Regions from separate parts of the Homo sapiens genome. Here regions 1 and 3 are each linked to region 2. The links come from fine-mapping of genetic effects on gene expression. A gene starts in region 2. Each other region holds a variant in brackets. All regions are shown on one strand. Distances are between the middles of the regions.

What was found. PIP is the estimated chance that this variant, and not a neighbour inherited with it, causes the effect. A credible set is the group of variants that fine-mapping cannot tell apart.
Region 1: its variant is the best candidate, but not a certain one, in a credible set for the expression of TCTN1 in tibial artery (GTEx, PIP 0.79).
Region 3: its variant is the best candidate, but not a certain one, in a credible set for the expression of TCTN1 in whole blood (TOPMed, PIP 0.68).

The regions. Positions count from the first base shown.
Region 1 is chr12:109,763,909-109,766,666 of GRCh38, forward strand. The region is part of intron 2 of FAM222A (family with sequence similarity 222 member A); the gene reads left to right. The region is part of intron 1 of FAM222A-AS1 (FAM222A antisense RNA 1); the gene reads right to left. Among named protein-coding and RNA genes, the nearest start is that of FAM222A-AS1, 8.2 kb to the right of the region's middle. The variant C/G (reference allele first, on the strand shown) is at 1,383.
Region 2 is chr12:110,612,538-110,615,295 of GRCh38, forward strand. It overlaps TCTN1 (tectonic family member 1), which reads left to right and starts at 1,592. Exons shown (of 15, transcript NM_001082538.3): 1 at 1,592-1,865. The coding sequence starts at 1,646. RefSeq lists an enhancer at 1,869-1,918.
Region 3 is chr12:110,440,263-110,443,020 of GRCh38, forward strand. It overlaps ARPC3 (actin related protein 2/3 complex subunit 3), which reads right to left. Exons shown (of 7, transcript NM_001278556.2): 3 at 50-126. Among named protein-coding and RNA genes, the nearest start is that of ARPC3, 8.7 kb to the right of the region's middle. The variant A/G (reference allele first, on the strand shown) is at 1,159.

The DNA.
Region 1 (2,758 bases), 850 kb before region 2:
AAACGAGAGTCATCAAGAAAAGCCATGGAGGCTGGGTGCCGTGGCATCTCAAAGTGCTGACCTGTAATCCCAGCACTTTGAGACACCAAGGTGGGAGGGTCACTTGAGCCCACGAGTTCGAGACCAGCCTGGGCAACATAGTGAGACCCCATCTTTACAAAAAATACAAAAATTAGCCAGGTGTAGTGGCACACCCTTGTAGTTCCAGCTACTTGGGAGACTGAGGCAGGAGGATCACTTGAGCCTGGGAGGTTGAGGCTGCAGTGAGCTACGACTGTGCCACTGCATTCTACCCTGAGTAAGACCCTGTCTTCAAAAAAAAAAAAAAAGCCATGGCCCTGGAGCCTAGCACATACTAGACGCTCACCAAAATGAGCTTCTGTATTATGGCACTTTCTGTGGAATGGCAGAGGGACCAGGTCACCCTCAATGAGCCCTGTTGACCACATGGGGGCAAAATGCCCCTTCTTTCAGTGAATGGGGACTAGGAACAGGCACTCCTTTTTTTTCTTCTTCTTCTTAAGGTTTTAAACACCTAATTTATTCCGTCCATTAGATAGATTTTGTAGATTTAATCATTTTCACAGTTGGTGGCTCATTGGATACTCAAGATAAACTCCAAATGAAAGTATAATGGTGAGGACAAATGAGTTTTCACACCACAATGGCAGAAACTTGCTTGGGAAGAGAGTTTAAGAGGAACAAAAATACATACAGATATAATTTTTTTTTCCCCGGCAGCTGCTTTTGCTGACTCCAGTAGGTTACCACAGTTAATTTCACCAGTTTTGTTCATCTGTAAAATTGCATAAAAGTGACATTTTTGTGCTCATTATAGCAACTGCTGATTTATGGCTGGTAAATGAAGAGCTGGTCCCTTTTTTGCGGGACTCTCCGAGTGGCGCTAAGTGCCCATGAAATTGCTTGTATAATGTAGTTTAAATCCAATCTCGGAGAAAGATTCCCCCGTTGGCCAAAGTGACATTTCCATTCTCCACACCGAGTTTATTTTAGGCCACTTAGGAGGAGGCTGCCCCGGGCAGAGTCGGGATGGGGGTCCATGGCTGGGTCCACTTGCCCAGCCCCAGTGAGGCCAGATGAACGGAGAGCCACCTACTTCTTCACTCCCTGCTGCCCTGGCCAGGTCAGACCACACCCTTCACCCAGGGCAGAGGCAAATAAGCCCACTGAAGCTCATTTGCCTAGGCTCATAGGCCTGCCCATGCCTTACCCTGCTTAAAACCTCCCATGGCTGCCCAGTGCCCCACGTCGGGGCCTCTCCCCCTTTGGCCCTGCTGACAGTTGGGACTGGACCCTTTTCTGTGGCAGAGCTGTCCTGTGCATTGTAGGATGTTTAGTGGCATCCCAGGCCATGACCCACC[C/G]GATGCCAGTAGCACCTCTACCCCTAGCTGTGACAGCCAATCATGTCTCTACACACAGCCAGAGTGCCCCGTGCAGTGAGAGCCGCTTTCCTGCAGCGAAGAGGCCCTCCCGGCCGGCCACCTCTCTTGGGCTTCTCTCTGCAAGCCTGCCCCGGTGCCTCTCTCCTCCCGAGTCATTTGCAGTTCCCACCCTGACTACTTCTCTGCCTCAGGGCCTTTGCCTGGGCTGTTTACTCTGCCTGAAATCTGTTTCTCCCTCCCTTTTCACCTCTTCTACCAGTGGCCCAGGACTTAACCAGGATACAGTTCCTTTTGGGAAGCTGTCTCTGGACCCCCATGTCCCGCCACCGCCTGTTCCTCTCCATCCCATTTCACTTGGATTGGTTGTGAGCCCACGAGGTGTCAGGGACGATGCTTTAGAAGGTTGGGACATGGCCAGCAGCCTTCTGATCAGTGGGGAGGTAGCAGGGTCTGCACTCTATCCCCAGCTGCGATGCCAGTCCCACCTGTGCCTGTCTGAAGGGTGGCATGAGTCCCCTGCCCCTTTTCTGGGAGGGCCCTTTCTCTGGGCAGATGGGGAAGGTATTAATACTCACGCTCACAGAACACCAGCTTTTGTTAACGCCATCTACCGCACATGACCCGTCAAACCCTCCCAGCCATCTTGGGAAGTAGTATTAGCAGTAGCATCACCCCATTTTACAGATGAGGAAGCAGAGGCCGAGTGGTGAAGCTCCTCTCCCAGGCTCCCCTGAAAGTAATGAGCTCCAAGCACCTATCATGTACCTCACCCCCTACTGAGCCCCCGGCGCCTCCATTCCTTGAGGCCACCTTGGAGACCTGGCATGATCATGACCCTCATTCTACAGGTGGGAAAACAGGCTCAGCTGGGCAAACTACATGCCCAGGGCCATTCCATCTGCCTCATGGAACTCCACCACCACCACTCTCCATACCCCCTCAGCCCCGGAAAGCTGTGGGCTGCCCTTGGGAATGTCTCAGGACCAGGGAGGGGCTATGGATGGGGGCAGGAGTCTGCCCGCCATGGCCCTCCTTCCCCATGGCAGGGCCAGTTGTGTCCACTTATAGTGGGGACAGTCAGCCTGTAGCACAGAGCGTACCCTTCAGCCCCATGCAGGCGGCTCACTAAAAAGGCAGCAGCAGCCATGCTGGCCTTACAGGTGAACAGTAGACTCAAGGAGGGGCCAGGAAGCAAGAGGCAGCAGCTCGCCCTGGCGCTAAGCCCCATCTGCCGTGTTCACGTAGTAGCACACTTAACCAGCCAATGAGGTGGGCAGGGGGTCATCATCCCGTTTCACAGGTGAGGAAGGAAGGCATACGGAGGATAAAAGGGTTAGAAGGAAGGAATGTCCCCC
Region 2 (2,758 bases):
GAATGTGCCACCATACCTGGCTAATTTTTGTATTTTTTGTAGAGATGTGGTTTCACCATGTTGCCCAGGCTGGTCTCAACTCCTGGACTCAAGCGATCCTCCCAAAGGGCTGGGAGTACAGGTGTGAGCCACTGTGCCTGGCCACGTCTAAGTACTTCGACATCTACTTCTGAACTGTATGGAGATTAAGTGTCAAAGGTGCAGCCAACATTCTTGGGCTTGGGTACCTCCTAAATAAGCCCATTCAGAATGGAGAGGGTTTCCTAAATCGTAGGGTCTCCAGGTCGTTTTGTAGCATTACAGTGGATTTGCTTTGTTTTCCCCTTTAAGATGTCTAAATTATTTTACTTAATTTTTGTAAAAGATTTTTGTCTTTAAATAGGTTCTTAGGCCTGGCGTGGTGGCTCATGCCTGTAATCCTAGCTCTTTGGGAGGCTGAGGCGGGAGGATCACTTGAGGCCAGGAGTTTGTGACTAGCCTGATCAACATAGTGAGACCCCCTCTCTACAAAAAATAATAAAAGGTATTAAGTGTTCATTTGTCCCCTTTATCACAATACAGCAGACAGAAGTTATCTGGCAACCTTGTGAGATGCAGCTAAAATAAAAAGGTGAAGCCAGTGTTGACAGAGTCTGGGATAGAGAAAATTCAGAGACAGTGATCTCACAGATCCCTGTGCTCCTTCCAAACACCCACGTTAGTGGCGTTGGGACGGCGCTTCCTAAATTTCCGTCCAACTCATCTGCTTGCGTCCGGACATTTGTTAAAAATATTTATTCCTGGCTGGGAGTGGTGGCTCACGCCTGTAATCCCAACTACTCAGGACTCAGGAGGCTGGAGCAGGTGGATCACTTGAACCAGGAGTTCGATACCAGTCCGGGCGACGGAGGGAGACCTCGTCTTTACAAAAAAAAAAAAAAAAAAAAAAAAATACAAAAATTAGCTGGGTATGGTGGCGCGCGCCTGAGTTCCCAGCTACTCAGGAGGCTGAAGTGGGAGGATTGCTTGAGTCCCAGAGGTCGAGGCTGCAGTGAGCCGAGATCGCGCTACTGCACTCCAGCCTGGGCGACAGAGTGAGACCCTGTCTCAAAAAAAATCCCCCAAAAACTGATTCCTGGGTCCTGCCCTAGACTAACTGACTCAGGATCTCCTGAGGTGGTACCTGGAAATCCGTCTTTTTTTTTTTTTTTTTTTTTTTTGGTTGAGACAGAGTGTCACACTGTCGCCCAGGCTGGAGTGCAGTGGCACGCTCACGGCTCTCTGTAGCCTTCACCTCCCGGGTTCAAGCGATTCTTCTGCCTCAGCCTCCCGAGTAGCTGGAACTACAGAAAATCTGCATTTTTTAAGCAAGCGCCGCGGACCGGTTGGAAACCACAGCCGGGATTTACACGCCCCTCGTTTACGCCAGCTTCACACCCGCTCACTAGTGCTCGCCCCTGTGCCTGCCATCGCTGCCTCACCCAGGCGCCGCCCTCCGGCCTCATCCGGGATCCGCCCCCTGCCTCATCCAGGCTTCGCCCCAGTCAGTCTCCGGCAGCTTCTCGCGGCTTCGCAAGCCCCTTCCCGTGATGCCCCGCGCCTGGCTGTCGCGGTTGCCGGGCAACGCGCTGTCCATGTCGCGGGCCTCGCTGGGACTCCCTGGGAGATGAGGCCGCGAGGTCTCCCGCCGCTCCTGGTGGTGCTCCTGGGCTGCTGGGCCTCCGTGAGCGCCCAGACCGATGCCACCCCGGCGGTGACGACAGAGGGCCTCAACTCCACCGAGGCAGCCCTGGCCACCTTCGGAACTTTCCCGTCGACCAGGCCCCCCGGGACTCCCAGGGCTCCAGGGCCCTCCTCCGGCCCCAGGCCTACCCCAGTCACGGACGGTGGGTACCATGTGCCAGCTCCTGGAGTCCACAGTGATCCAACCTCAAGGGGACAGCCCCGGTGAGGACGTAATAATGATAGCTAACTCTTATTGAGCACTTACTGTGTGCAGACACTGCTGAGTGTTCCATAAACGTCCATTCTCTAAACAATAACCCTGAGAAGTAGCTGTTACTATCACTGTCAGGTAAATGAGAAAACCGGGTCTCAGAGTTTAAGTGGAACGGTATCAAACCTTTGAAAATACTTGAAGTGGTCCCAGACAACAGTGATGCAAAGAGCAATAATGAATTCTTGCAGCCCAAGACGAAATTAAGTCGAGACAATGGTGGAAATTAGTGCCTTGGCTGCACTGAACTTTCACTTAAAGAGAGGCCAAAGGTCTATCTTACTAAATGTGACTATGTTAAGACCCTTCTCTGTTGACCTGAATTCTAAAAACCCAGGATTCCTCCTGTGTTGAATTGGAGGTGGAAAGCTATTGAGGGAGGGGTTATGCTCACTTCTTAGGAGTCATATGTAGGGATAATTAACATTTTTTTCAGAAAATGATTAATTCTAGAATTACACATTTAGTGGAAATATTTTATAATCTAATTTGACGTTTGGCTGGCGCCGTGGCTCACGCCTGTAATCCCAGCACTTTGGGAGGTCAACTCGGGTGGATTGCTTGAGGTAGGAGTTCAAGATCAGTCTGGTCAAAATGGCGAAACCCAGTCTCTACTAAAAATAGAAAAAATAGCCGGGCATGGTGTAATCCTAGCTACTCGGGAGGCTGAGGCAGGAGACTCGCTTGAACCCAGGAGGCAGAGGTTGCAGTAATTACCACTGCACTCCAGACTGGGCGACAGAGCAAGACTGTCTCAAAAAAAAAAATTGACATGGATGACTT
Region 3 (2,758 bases), 170 kb before region 2:
TTATCCCTATGAGAAAACTAAGTTAAATATTAAAAGCTCCGTAATTTACCTTAATTTCATAGTTTTTGAAGAAGACATTGGCCTTGAAGTAATAGATGGCTTCATCCACAATATCTGTATCTTTTGCTAAGCAGGACACAAGGGAAGGAGCACAGAGAACATTAGCCAAATACAAAACATAACAACTATCAAAGCCATAAAGGGAAAACACATACAACTGTCAACAGTTGTGGAGTTGAATAAAATAAAATGATCCTATTGAAATACAAAGTTTTTAGAAAATATTTATTTGTTTTTTTTTTGAGACAGAGTCTCGCTCTGTCACCCAGGCTGGAGTGCAGTGGCGTGATCTTGGCTCACTGCAAGCTCTGCCTCCCGGGTTCACGCCATTCTCCTGCCTCAGCCTCCTGAGTAGCTGGGGCTACAGGCACCTGCCACCACACCCCGCTAATTTTTTGTATTTTTAGTAGAGATGGGGTTTCACCATGTTAGCCAGGATGGTCTTGATCTCCTGACCGCGTGATCCGCCCATCTCGGCCTCCCAAAGTGCTGGGATTACAGGCATGAGCCACCGTGCCCAGCCTTTGTTTTTTTTTTTGAGACAGAGTTTCACTCTGTCGCCCAGGCTGGAGTGCAGTGGCGCGATCTTGGCTCACTGCAAGCTCCGCCTCCCGGGTTCACGGCATTCTCCTGCCTCAGCCTCCCAAGTAGCTGGGGCTATAGGCACCTGCCACCATGCTCAGCTATATTTTTTGTATTTTTAGTAAAGACGGGGTTTCACCGTGTTAGCCAGGATGGTCTTGATCTCCTGACCTCGTGATCCGCCCATCTCGGCCTCCCAACGTGCTGGGATCACAGGCATAAGCCACCGTGCCCGGCCAAATTTTTTTTTTTTGAGACGGAGTCTTGCTCCGTCGCCCAGACTGGAGTGAAATGGCATGATCTCGGCTCACTCTGCCTCCCGGGTTCAAGCGATTCTCCTGCCTCAGCCTCCCAAGTAGCTGGGATTATACGCATGTACCACCAGGCCTGGCTAATTTTTGTATTTTTAGTAGAAATGGGGTTTCACCTTGTTGGTCAGGCTGGTCTCGAACTCCTGACCTCGTGATCTGCCTGCCTCAGCCTCCCAAAGTGCTGGGATTACAGGAGTGAGCCACC[A/G]CCCCCGGATTTTCAGAAAATATTTATAGAAAAGTAGTACATGGTTTATTTTTACAGCTTTATTGTTTTCGTAAAACTTATACATGCTCATTAGAAAATGAAATTCAATCAAAACAGTTTTATTTTTTAGAGAGAGGTCTTGCTCTGTTACCCGGGCTGGAGTGCAGTGGTACAATTATAACTCACCACAGACTTGAATTCCTGAGCGCAAGTGATCCTCCTGCTTCAGCTTCCCAGGTAGCCGGGACTACAGGCATGCACCATGAGGCCTGGCTAATTTTTTTCTTTAAAAATTAAATAAAATTTTTAAAGAAAAGTTTTTAAAGATGGCTGGGCACAGTGACTCACGCCTGTAATCCCAACACTTTGGGAGGCCGAGACGGGTGGATCACCTGAGGTCAGGAGTTTGAGAGCAGCCTGGCCAACATGGTGAAACTGCGCCTCTACTAAAAATACAAAAAATTAGCCAAGCATGGTGGCAGGCACCTGTAATCCCAGCTATTCGGGAGGCTAAGGCAGGAGAATCGCTTGAACTCGCGGGTGGAGGATGCAGTGAGCCAAGATTGCACCATTGCACTCCAGCCTGGGCAACGAGATCAAAACTCTGTCTCCAAAAAAAAAAAAAAAGTTTTTTTTAGAGATGCAGTCTCACTATGTTGCCTAGGCTGGTCTCAAACTCCTGGCCTCAAGTGATCCTCCTGCCTCCTGAGTAGCTAGGATTACAGGCATAAGCCACAGCACCAGGCAAAAAAAAAATTTTTAATTGTCACCTTAATTCCCATTTCCCCAAAAATAACTACCATTAGCATTTGGTGAACATTATTCAAGACGTCTCTCAATGCATTTATAAAAAAACACTGAGACATAGACTAACTTTAACTGCTTCCTAAAAATAAAAAGTATTCAGTCGGGCGCAGTGGCTCACGCCTGTAGTCCCAGCACTTTGGGAGGCTGAGGCGGATGGATTGCCTGAGGTCAGGAGTTCGAGACCAGCCTGGCCAACATGGAGAAACCCTGTCTCTACTAAAAATACAAAAACTAGCCGGGCATGGTGGTACGTGCCTGTAATCCCAGCTACTCAGGGGGCTGAGGCAGGAGAATTGCTTGAACCCAGGAGGCAGAGGTTGCAGTGAGCTGAGATCATTCCACCAAACTCAAGCCTGGGTGACAGAGCGAGACTCCATCTCAAAAAAGTAATAATAAAAAATATATATAATTAAATAAAATAAAAAGTATTCAATATAATTTTATTTGAATTTACATATTATAGTTTCAGAAAAAAACTCAATTATTTAGAACATGTTGAGGTTCAGATACACATCTTTCTTTTTATGAAAACTATGACTTAAAATATACTTGTACAAGCTGTTGTAGGTAGCTCTAGACGGACAAAAGCCAGAAATACTGTCTTGACAAAGACAGATCTCATGACACAATTTGTTTGGCAATTTTTTGTTTTTCTTCTTCTTATTTTAAAAAGGTCAAAATCCCAGGGTCTTGATATCTGGCAGTTGGTTTCAGCAGTGCTGAGACAGTTACTTATACTTCTTGTCTATGACTGTTAACGTTCTCGCACAGCAGAAATGCAAAGTAATCTTGA